Linked DNA regions of Homo sapiens: regions 1 and 3 are each reported to be linked to region 2. Evidence: microRNA targets listed by miRTarBase, many of them from high-throughput screens and not tested one by one. Region 2 holds a microRNA gene; each other region holds the end of a gene's coding sequence.

Region 1 (3,000 bases), not on the chromosome of region 2:
CACCACCATGCCTGGCTAATTTTTTTTTTCTTGTAGAGATGGTATCTCACTCTCTGGTTTGCGACAAGACTAGTTGCAAACTCCTGGGCTCAAACAACCCTCCCACCTCAGCCTCCCAAAGTACTGGGATTCCCGGTGTGAGCCGCCACACCCAGCCTGAGTCAGCTCCCTTGACCTTTCTCCCCCCTCTACCTGCCCTGCCAGGTCTCCCACACATTCTCCAACTACCCGCCCGGCGTCCGCTACATCTGGTTTCAGCACGGCGGCGTGGACACTCATTACTGGGCCGGCTGGTACGGCCCGAGGGTCACCAACAGCAGCATCACCATCGGGCCCCCGCTGCCCTGACACCCCCTGAGCCCCCATCTGCTGAACCCTGACTGGTAAACAACTGCTGTCAGAAAAGGGCTGGGCTTGGGAAGGGGAGGTGGAGGCCAGGTGTCCCCAGACCTCTAACCCTTGCCCCTAGCAGCCTCTTCTTTGTGGAGCCTCTCAGTGTGGGCAGCCCTCGCATGCTGGGGTCGGGCCAGCTCTCCCCGAAAGGTCTTGACCTGAATGATGGCCGGGGAAGCCTGCGTGTGCCCCTTTCAGAGACGGAGCACCTGAGATGTGGGAGGTGCAGCATGTTCCCCTGGGCCCCTCAGAAAGTCGAGCTTGGAGGCCAGCCTGGATCTGTCTCTCCCTTCCCCTCCTGGGACCATTCTACCTGTGTTCTTTGACCCTCGGAGCAGGGACAGGCAAGACAACTGGCAAGCTTGCAGCTGCCCTGATGGTGCAGGTGCAGGGAGGTGACCATGTAACTCTGACCAATCTGGGAAGTGGAGGGTGGGCTCATGGGCCGTGCTCTGCCCCTGTCTGCTGCTCCCAGTCTCTCGCTCTGCCTGCCTGCTCAGAAGAGGTGGCTTTGGCCCAGAGGCTCAGGCCGGGACTGAGATGGACAGACCCAGGGTGGGGTGGGGTCCAGGTCGGGTGTGGACTGTCCTCACTGTCAGTGGAGCCCCAGAAGCTAGATGGGTACCAGGTGGGGTTAGGTTCCCAGAGGACTGAGGGAATCCTGTACAGGATGTCCCAGGGTAGATGGGGAGCAGGATTGGGACCTGCTCTGACAGCTGGACACATGAGCCCTGGATGAGTATGGTAGGGGGTTTGAAGAATCCCCTGTCCACCTCCCAAATCCAGGCCCGGCCCCCTCTGGCTTGGAGAGCATTCCAAGCCCCCACCCCACCCCTAGAACTGCCATTCCCAAGACCTCTGTCTCCCAGCCAACCACCCTTGGAACTTGCCTCTTGTCCTGCTGGAAAGATAGCAGTGTTCTCCTGACTTCGCCCTACTGCATGCAGCCAAATAAAAGGTGTGCCCAGTCTAACCTGTGCCCTGTGGTTTCTGGAAGGAAAGGCAGACTTTAGGTGGTCCTGCCTGGACCTGCAGATGGTACAATGGCATGGCTTCTGTCTAAGGTACAGAGGGGTTGGCATTTCAGGAACCAGGCCATCACAGAAACAGGTTCATGGGCAGACCCCTCAGTGAGCTGCAGGTATCTCACCTGGCAGCCGTCCAGTACTGCTGGCTTCCTCTGGAGGCCCAGCCACAGGCTGGGGTTGGGGTGTGTGGACATCTCTGGGCAGCTCTTGAGTCCACCTTGTGCCAGATCAGCAGTGCCACCCAGGCTCTGCCTCCTGGTGTTACTCTTTGCCAACAGCTTTACGGACATTGGATGAAGCCGAAGCATTTAGAATGGTGCCTGGCACACAGTTGGTGCGTGATATGGTTAAGCTTTGTGTCCCCACCCACATCTCATCTTGAATGGTAATCCTGGGTGTTTAGGGAGAGACCTGGTGGGAAGTGATTGGATTATGGGAGCGGTTTTCCCCCATGCTGTTCTCATGATAGTGAGTGAGTTCTCACGAGATCTGATGGTTTTACAAGTGACGGTTTCCCCGGCTCCCTCCTGCCGCCATGTGAAGAAGGTCGTTGCTTCCCCTTCACCTTCCACCACCATGATTGTAAGTTCCTTTTTTCTTTTCTTTTCTTTTTTTTTTTTTTTTTTTTGAGATGGAGTCTCGCTCTGTCGCCCAGGCTGGAGTGCAGTGGCGCAATCTCAGCTCACTGCAAGCTCTGCCTCCCAGGTTCGCGCCATTCACCTGCCTCAGCCTCTGGAGTAGCTGAGACTACAGGCGCCCACCACCATGCCCGGCTAATTTTGTTTGTATTTTTAGTAGAGATGGAGTTTCACCATGTTGGCCAGGGTGGTCTCAATCTCCTGACCTCGTGATCCACCCACCTCGACCTCCCAAAGTGCTGAGATTACAGGCGTGAGCCACCGCGCCCAGCGATTGTTTCTTGAGGCTTCCCCAGCCATATGGAACTATAAGTCAATTAAACCTCTTTCCTTTTATAAATCACCCAGTCTCGGGTATTTCTTTATAGCAGTGTGAACATGGACTATAATCCAGTGCTCAATAAGTACTCCTCACATTTAGCTATCTCAGTCAAGGGTGAGCTAGATAAGGGCTTTGGCCAGGGCAGGATCACCACCCACCAGCCCATGGCAAACTGCAAAAGGACGGCCTTCCACGGAGAACATGTAGCCCTGACTGCAATTAATGTGTCCTGGGCCAGTCCCCTTGTGCAGTACACAGCCTGCACAACCCTTGGTGGTTGCCTGAACAAGGTGCTTGCTAAATATTTGTTGACTGATGGAAGAAATTCATGAACTTAATCCTGATAAAAAACCTCAGAGGTTTTTTATTTTTTGAGACAAGGTCTGGCTCTGTCGCCCAGGCTGCAGTGCAGTGGTACAGTCTCCACTCACTGCAGCCTCCCAGGTTCAAGCGATTCTCCCACCTCAGCCTCCGGAGGAGCTGGGATTATAGACCTGTGCCACCACGCCCGGCTAATTTTTGTATATTTAGTAGAGACAGGGTTTTTGCCATGTTGGCCAGGCTGGTCTCGAACTCCTGACCTCAAGCGATCCTCCCCACCTCGGCCTCCCAAAGTGCT
Region 2 (3,150 bases):
GTCATCAGGCTTTTCACACAGGTCCTCGGTTTCAGAAGTAATTTCTTGTGGGGAAGAAAGGGGACATGTCACTCGGATGATGACTTCTGCGTACACACGCGTTCCATATAAACGCAGGGCCCCCACGAGCTGGGGGATTTCTCACACGCCTCGGCCCAGCCTGAGCTCACCAGGCAAGCCCAGGGGCCCTACATGGACAATTTGCTGGCCAAACCCAGGCCCCCCCATCGGTAATCATTTGAAGGCCTCACCAGACTCAAGGCGGAAGCCTTCCCCGGGGGAGCGCCACCTGCCAGTCACAGGGAGCAGAGCTGCCAGCACCTGGCGGATGAGCTCCCCATTCAGCCCGTTTCCTGCCGTAAGCTTTAAATGCAGCAGTTTCCATCTCATCAGGGTGACTTTCCTATGCCAGAGACACATCTGTCCCAGGAAGTCAACTCCTCAAGAGAAGGGCGACGCCGCCGGCCACCGGCCAGGTAAGTCCCCGGGAAGAGCATGGCTGCACCTGAACTTCAGGCTCCCATACAGACTCCTCTGGGTGGCAAGCCCAACCCTGGTGGGGAGCAGGGGGCGGATGGTTGGAGGCAACTCAGTTCCAGCTGCCGTGGCCGAGCCGTGAGTACCAGAGGCCGCAGGCAGGTGCTGGGTCCAACCTATCTGTGCAGGGCTCATTTCGGCCCACCTGTTACACGCCTTGTTTCTCACCCAGGCCTGGTCCCTCACCCTGTCCTGTCTGTCACCTCTGTCTCCTGTGACACCCACAGAATGTGGCGGGGAGACCCCGGGGTGCTCACCTTGGAAGGTGGGCCTAACTCGCGGATCCCCCTGCCAGCACCGCTGCATGAGGCGTATCAGGTGGCTGCAGGCGCGCGGCCGGGCTCTGCACACGGGCGGCAGCTCGGGGCGGTGGCCCTTCACCACCTTCACCATGATGTGCAGGATGTTCTTCTCATCTGCCAAGGGAAGGATGCGAGTCAGGGGCTCTGCAGGGCTGGGTGGCAGCATCTCACCCTTGGGAGGAAACGACACACTCGCCGGGGGCCACAATGGGGCCATCCCCACACCACCCCAGGGAGACGGCTCCCCCACTCCGTTTCAAAGGCAGAGCTTCCTGTAACCCTCACCCTCATGGTGCGCCATGCTCTCTAGTTTCCTGGTTTTGAAATCGACCTCTTTCCCTGGGTTCTGATCTACCAGAAGGAGTCAGTGTGTTTGGTCACAGAGCAGATCTTTCTAGGCATCCCATCCAAAGGAAGATGAGGTTCAAAGGAGAACAATATCTTATGAGGCTCATTCCATCAACAGCCCAAGCCAGCAAAGGGAATGAGGCTCACGCACCATGGAGGAGCCACAGCGTCCTACATCCACAGAGACCCAACTCTCTCTACAATGGCGAAGAAGTCTTCCTCAGTTCCAACTCCAATCCCAAGCTCAGGTCCCCAGCTGGCCTCCCCTGCCGGTGCACCAGGGCTGGGATGTGTGGAAGGGCTCTTTCCCCTCAATTCACCATGTGGGGCCGCACCTGTCCTTTCCAACTGCCTTCACTAGCATGCATGGGCTCTAGCTTATTATTATTATTGCCACAACTTCTACCCTGACTGGGAAGGGCCCAGGGTGACATCCAGTGGGCCAAGTTCTTTTTTCTGCTTAGCCTGGAACCCTCAAGGTTCTTGTTCCCAACAGCCCTCTCTGCCCTCCAGATCCAAACACACCCACGCATGGAATGGCAGCTCTTTGGAGAGGCCATGTGCCTCAGCAGGTGTGGAAAATCAGCCGAGAATCACCCACGGCTGCCAGGATTCCATACAATGTTTTGCTCCACTTTCCCATTAAATCTTGTGCAATAAATATCGTTAAGTGTTTAGCAGGCTATTTCCATGATTATTCAGACTTCAAAACCAACAGCTCCTCTAAATAAAATGGAAGCAAACTGAAGTAAACGCCCGGAATGTTTCCTGCTGCCAAGCACAGACTGGAAAAGCTGGGGAGAGGCCTTGTTCTCCTGCACCTTGAACCCCCTCCTACCCATTTTTGCCTGAGGTTGCAATTTTTTGAATTTGAAAAATCAGACCTTGGCGATGACCTTGAACAGTAGGACACGAATAATTCCCATATGATTAGCGTTCCAATAAGGGAACACTAGGCATATTCAGCAATAAAGCACAAGGGCTTGAGCCTTGACCTGTCCCCTGCGCCTAGCTTCGGGTGTCACATCTATCAGACACTGCCTCATTTCACAAGCCTTCGGGCTGTAGGCCACTGTGCGGGAGAACGTACAGAAGGCAAGAAAGGCGACAGGCGGTCAGACAACACAGACGGACACCGGCCAGCAGAGGCCTGGCAGGACGCGTTCTGTGCTTTCTACTGACATTCTTTTAAAGCTGCCAAGATACTTGATCTTGCGATGCTGGAAGATCTCTTCTCACCCCAGCACTTTCCCATACATCGGCTCCTAGTCTGAGCCCCGACTAACAAGGGGCTAGGCCTTGACTCTCATCTTCATTTTTAGACATTTTCGGTCACACCACAAAATATCATGAGTAGCCCAGAAATGTCTTTAGAGGAAAAGGGAATCTGTCCAACAAAGCTAAAAAGTCCTGGATTTTTATGATAAGTAAGTCAAGGTGTGACAACTTTGAGGATGGTGTTCGGAATGGTGGCTGCCTGGCTGGGGAAGCAAACACCACAGCTCTCAAGCTGGGCAGGGGTGCCACTCCTGCAAGCAACTCCATGGCACTGAGCAGCTCTGGAGGTTGGCTGCGCAAGCACGCGGGTACATGTAATGCTCCTGAACTGTATGCTTCACACGGCTGACATGCTAAGTTTTGTTCTGTGTATTTTATGACTATTTTTTTAAAAAGTAAACAAAAAAGAATTAGCTGGAAATACCAGCACAGGCAAACCCCTGGAGACAGAAAGCAGGTGAGTGGTTGCTGGGGCTTGAGCAGGAGGAAGGGCGAGGGACTGCAGAATGGCCATGGGCTTTGCCTTCTAGCATGATGAGAATGTTCTGGAATTAGACAGTGGTAACGCTTGTTCAACACTGCCAGTGTAGTTAATGTCACTGAATTATACACTTTAAATGGCTAACATGACCAATTTTATGTTATATATATTTTACTACCACAAAAAAACTAGCTGGCACCTAAA
Region 3 (3,000 bases), not on the chromosome of region 2:
TACTTAAGCTACTGATGAAAACTTACAACAGCTAGGCAGGTTTGTACGCAAGTGTTGACAGCAGGGAGAGCACGGGAAGGGCTGGAAGCATGCCTAGTCCCAGCCAGGGCAGGGCATGTTGGAGTCAGCTCCCACTCAAGCAGCCTGCTGAGTGCAGCCCAGCGAGCGTCCGCGTGGTCGGGGGGCTTCCTAAGTCTGTGGAAAGAGGCTTTTCCTATATCCACATGGATGCGCCCTGAAGCCAATGGAAAACAGGACTCAATGTTCTCCCAGTCCATAGCTGGTCAGTACCATTGCTATCCCTGGACTCAGGCTTAGAAGCAAGTTTGAATCAACATATTTGAAACATGATCTTAAGATTCTGAGTGCAATGACAGGCAAGATTGTTATTGAAATTGGTATGGTAGGGCATGGGCAGAACAATCGGCCTCACCCTTGACTCATCTCCCACATTCCTTTTAAAGAACAGGTATCCATGTACCAACCACTTCAATTCATATCCGAATCATGATTCTCTTACTTTCTAACTTAGGTAACCAAGCTACCTAAGCCCTGCCTGCTTCCTTATGGCCCTTTCCAGGTAATAGAAAATGGAAACTGACCACATGCCTCACATGGCCAAATGTTTGCCAAGACTAGCAGAGTTTTTCTTTTAAACATTCTGTATGAAATATGTCAGACTGGGGGACGGGGGATCTCTTCTAATTCATTGTTTTTCTTTTAAACATTGTGCACAAGCTTATATTCACATAGAAAGCATATACATCTTATAAATCACAGACTTTTTTTTAAGTAGTACTCCAGTTTATCAGCTCATTTTACACACATATTTAGGCAACAGAATGTATAAATCTACCGCAATACAGAGGACACACTATCCAGAAAAGAATGAACAAAGAACAGGCTGTTGCAAAAATATTTAGTCCCTTTACACATATAGTCAAACTTCATTAATGCAAAAAAATGTAGTGGTTATTAAATGTCTGAAAGAATCAGTATGTATGATTGAGATTGTTAATCTCTGAGTATAACACATATTGTTCATCTCAGAGTTGTTTTGTTTTAAAGCCGTGGTAGATGCTTCTCTTTAAATGTGCATTTTTTAGAAACTGGCCAAACCTTCAAAAGAAAAGTTTAACACCTCACGGTTAATATATGTACTAACAGCGATGAACGCCCAACAAGTTCTGGCAGCCTCATCCAGCACACAAGCCAGAGACTTCCAAAGTAAGGTGGCGCACACGTGGCCAGGGCCCTTGGCTGGTGGCCCTTCATGGGGCAGGGCAAGCTACACAGAACTGGGACCAACAGCACTCGCAGCATCACTAGGGAGGATTTCAGCAAGAAGCATTTGTGTCAAGGACATAGGACCTGCCGGCCTGAGGCTGGAGATGCCCTTGGGGCTGAAGCCTTGGTGACTCCCCCTCTCATCACTTGGCCTGTATGAATCTCTTGCTCTAAAAGATGCTCTGTAGAGTTTTTCCTTGGAGATTCGTGTGAGCTGAGGTCCAGTCAAAGCTGATCATTAGAATCACTGATGCAGGGATGTGTGAGGGTATTTTTGAATATGGATTTTTAAATTGGAATCACCGACAATGCAGCTCTATAAAAAGTGCAGCACAGTAAAAGTGCATTTCCTCCAGCACTCTCCAACAGCAGAGTGACTGAGGACTCCACAGACAGGACGCAGCAAGACGAGAGAATGAGACGGCTGCTACGAGGTGTCAAGCGGCCCAGCTGCACTCCTGACACCTCAGTAGCATGAACACTGTAAAGCTTTCAGTTGTTAAGGCCACGATTTTTCAGCTCTCATCTTTGAACCCTGTTAAGAAAGATTTCACCTTTTTAAAAGGGGTAGCTCACTAAAAATACAGCTTAGCGTAAAAAGAAAAAAAGACTTCAGGGCAAGAGGATCCTATTATCTTTATGAAAACACTGTGCAGAAAAGTCCACAGCCACTTACCCTAGAGTAAAGCCAGCTCATTAAGCAGCCAGCTTCCTACGCTGAGAGGCTCTGCCTCATCAGTCAGCCCAGGCGGGAAGACTTCATGAATGCTCTGGGATGGACACCAAGCTACTGGAAGGGGAAATGGTTTTCCAAGTGTCCCTGTATGTTGCTAGCAGAATGGGGAGAGGTCTAATTCCTAATCACATTTACCACTTAGGCCCAATGGCCTGGTCTGATGAGTGAGACATCTAGTGAAATCGATCACAGTCTGACACACACACTGACAATCATATGGAATCATTTGAAATGGGATCTATCACACCATGGTCCTTAATCGTTCCAGTCTATTGCCGCAGGAAGACACCCGCCAGCTCCTGCTCTGGGTGGGGTCAGGCTGGTGAGCAGAGCAGCTGCTGGGGAGGTGACCAAGGACGTGGCCTGGACCCTCCGGGGGGCTCACTAAGAAACCCCACCCAGAGTCAGTACATCAAAACAAATGTTGCAAACCCGCACAGGCTTGTTCAGATCAAACTTTATAATAGGAATCTCCTTGGTCGAGCATTTATGGCAAAGAAGACGTCCGCAGTGACGACTGTGGAAGCAAAGAAAGGAAGTATGAGAGGAGCGCCAACGACAGACTCTGCTTCCTGGCACGTGAGGACAACCGCAGCAGGGCCTGGCAGCCAAGGCGCCCGCAATGCTACTCTGGCAACTCTGCCAACTGCCAGCCCGGTTACCACAATTCATGTAGAATTTTTAGTCTATGAAAACAAAACTCTAGTCAATCATCAAGTTAAAGCAATACTGAAGAAGGCTTTTTTTTTTTTTTTTGGAAGATCAAGAGCAGCTCAGGCCAGGCATGGTGGCTCACGCCTGTAATCCCAGCACTTTGGAAGGCTGAGGCAGGCGCATCACTTGAGGGCACGGGTTTCAAGATCAGCCTGGCCAACATGGTGAAACCCCGTCTCTACTAAAAATACAAAAATTAGCTGGGCGTGGTGGCGTATGCCTGAATCCCAGCTGCTCAGGAGGCTGAGGAATAAGAATCGCTT

The links. The annotated mature microRNA hsa-miR-6814-5p reads UCCCAAGGGUGAGAUGCUGCCA and lies in region 2 at 997-1,018, opposite strand. An mRNA with a match to its seed (bases 2 to 7 or 8) in the 3' UTR can be bound and repressed. Matches are read on the target gene's strand: a 7mer-m8 pairs with bases 2 to 8, a 7mer-A1 pairs with bases 2 to 7 and ends in A, and an 8mer does both.
Region 1: miRTarBase lists FBXO44 as a target of hsa-miR-6814-5p. Seed matches in the 3' UTR shown: 7mer-A1 at 414-420.
Region 3: miRTarBase lists ANKFY1 as a target of hsa-miR-6814-5p. The part of its 3' UTR that is shown has no 7-base or 8-base seed match.

What each region holds. Positions count from the first base shown.
Region 1 is chr1:11,660,926-11,663,925 of GRCh38, forward strand. It overlaps FBXO44 (F-box protein 44), which reads left to right. Exons shown (of 6, transcript NM_033182.7): 6 at 205-2,402. The coding sequence ends at 348. Among named protein-coding and RNA genes, the nearest start is that of FBXO6, 1.8 kb to the right of the region's middle.
Region 2 is chr21:41,745,819-41,748,968 of GRCh38, forward strand. It overlaps MIR6814 (microRNA 6814), which reads right to left and starts at 1,023; the gene lies at 954-1,023. RIPK4 (receptor interacting serine/threonine kinase 4) reads right to left here. Exons shown (of 8, transcript NM_020639.3): 5 at 795-953; 6 at 1-44.
Region 3 is chr17:4,165,372-4,168,371 of GRCh38, forward strand. It overlaps ANKFY1 (ankyrin repeat and FYVE domain containing 1), which reads right to left. Exons shown (of 25, transcript NM_001330063.2): 25 at 1-2,540. The coding sequence ends at 2,408. Among named protein-coding and RNA genes, the nearest start is that of CYB5D2, 24 kb to the left of the region's middle.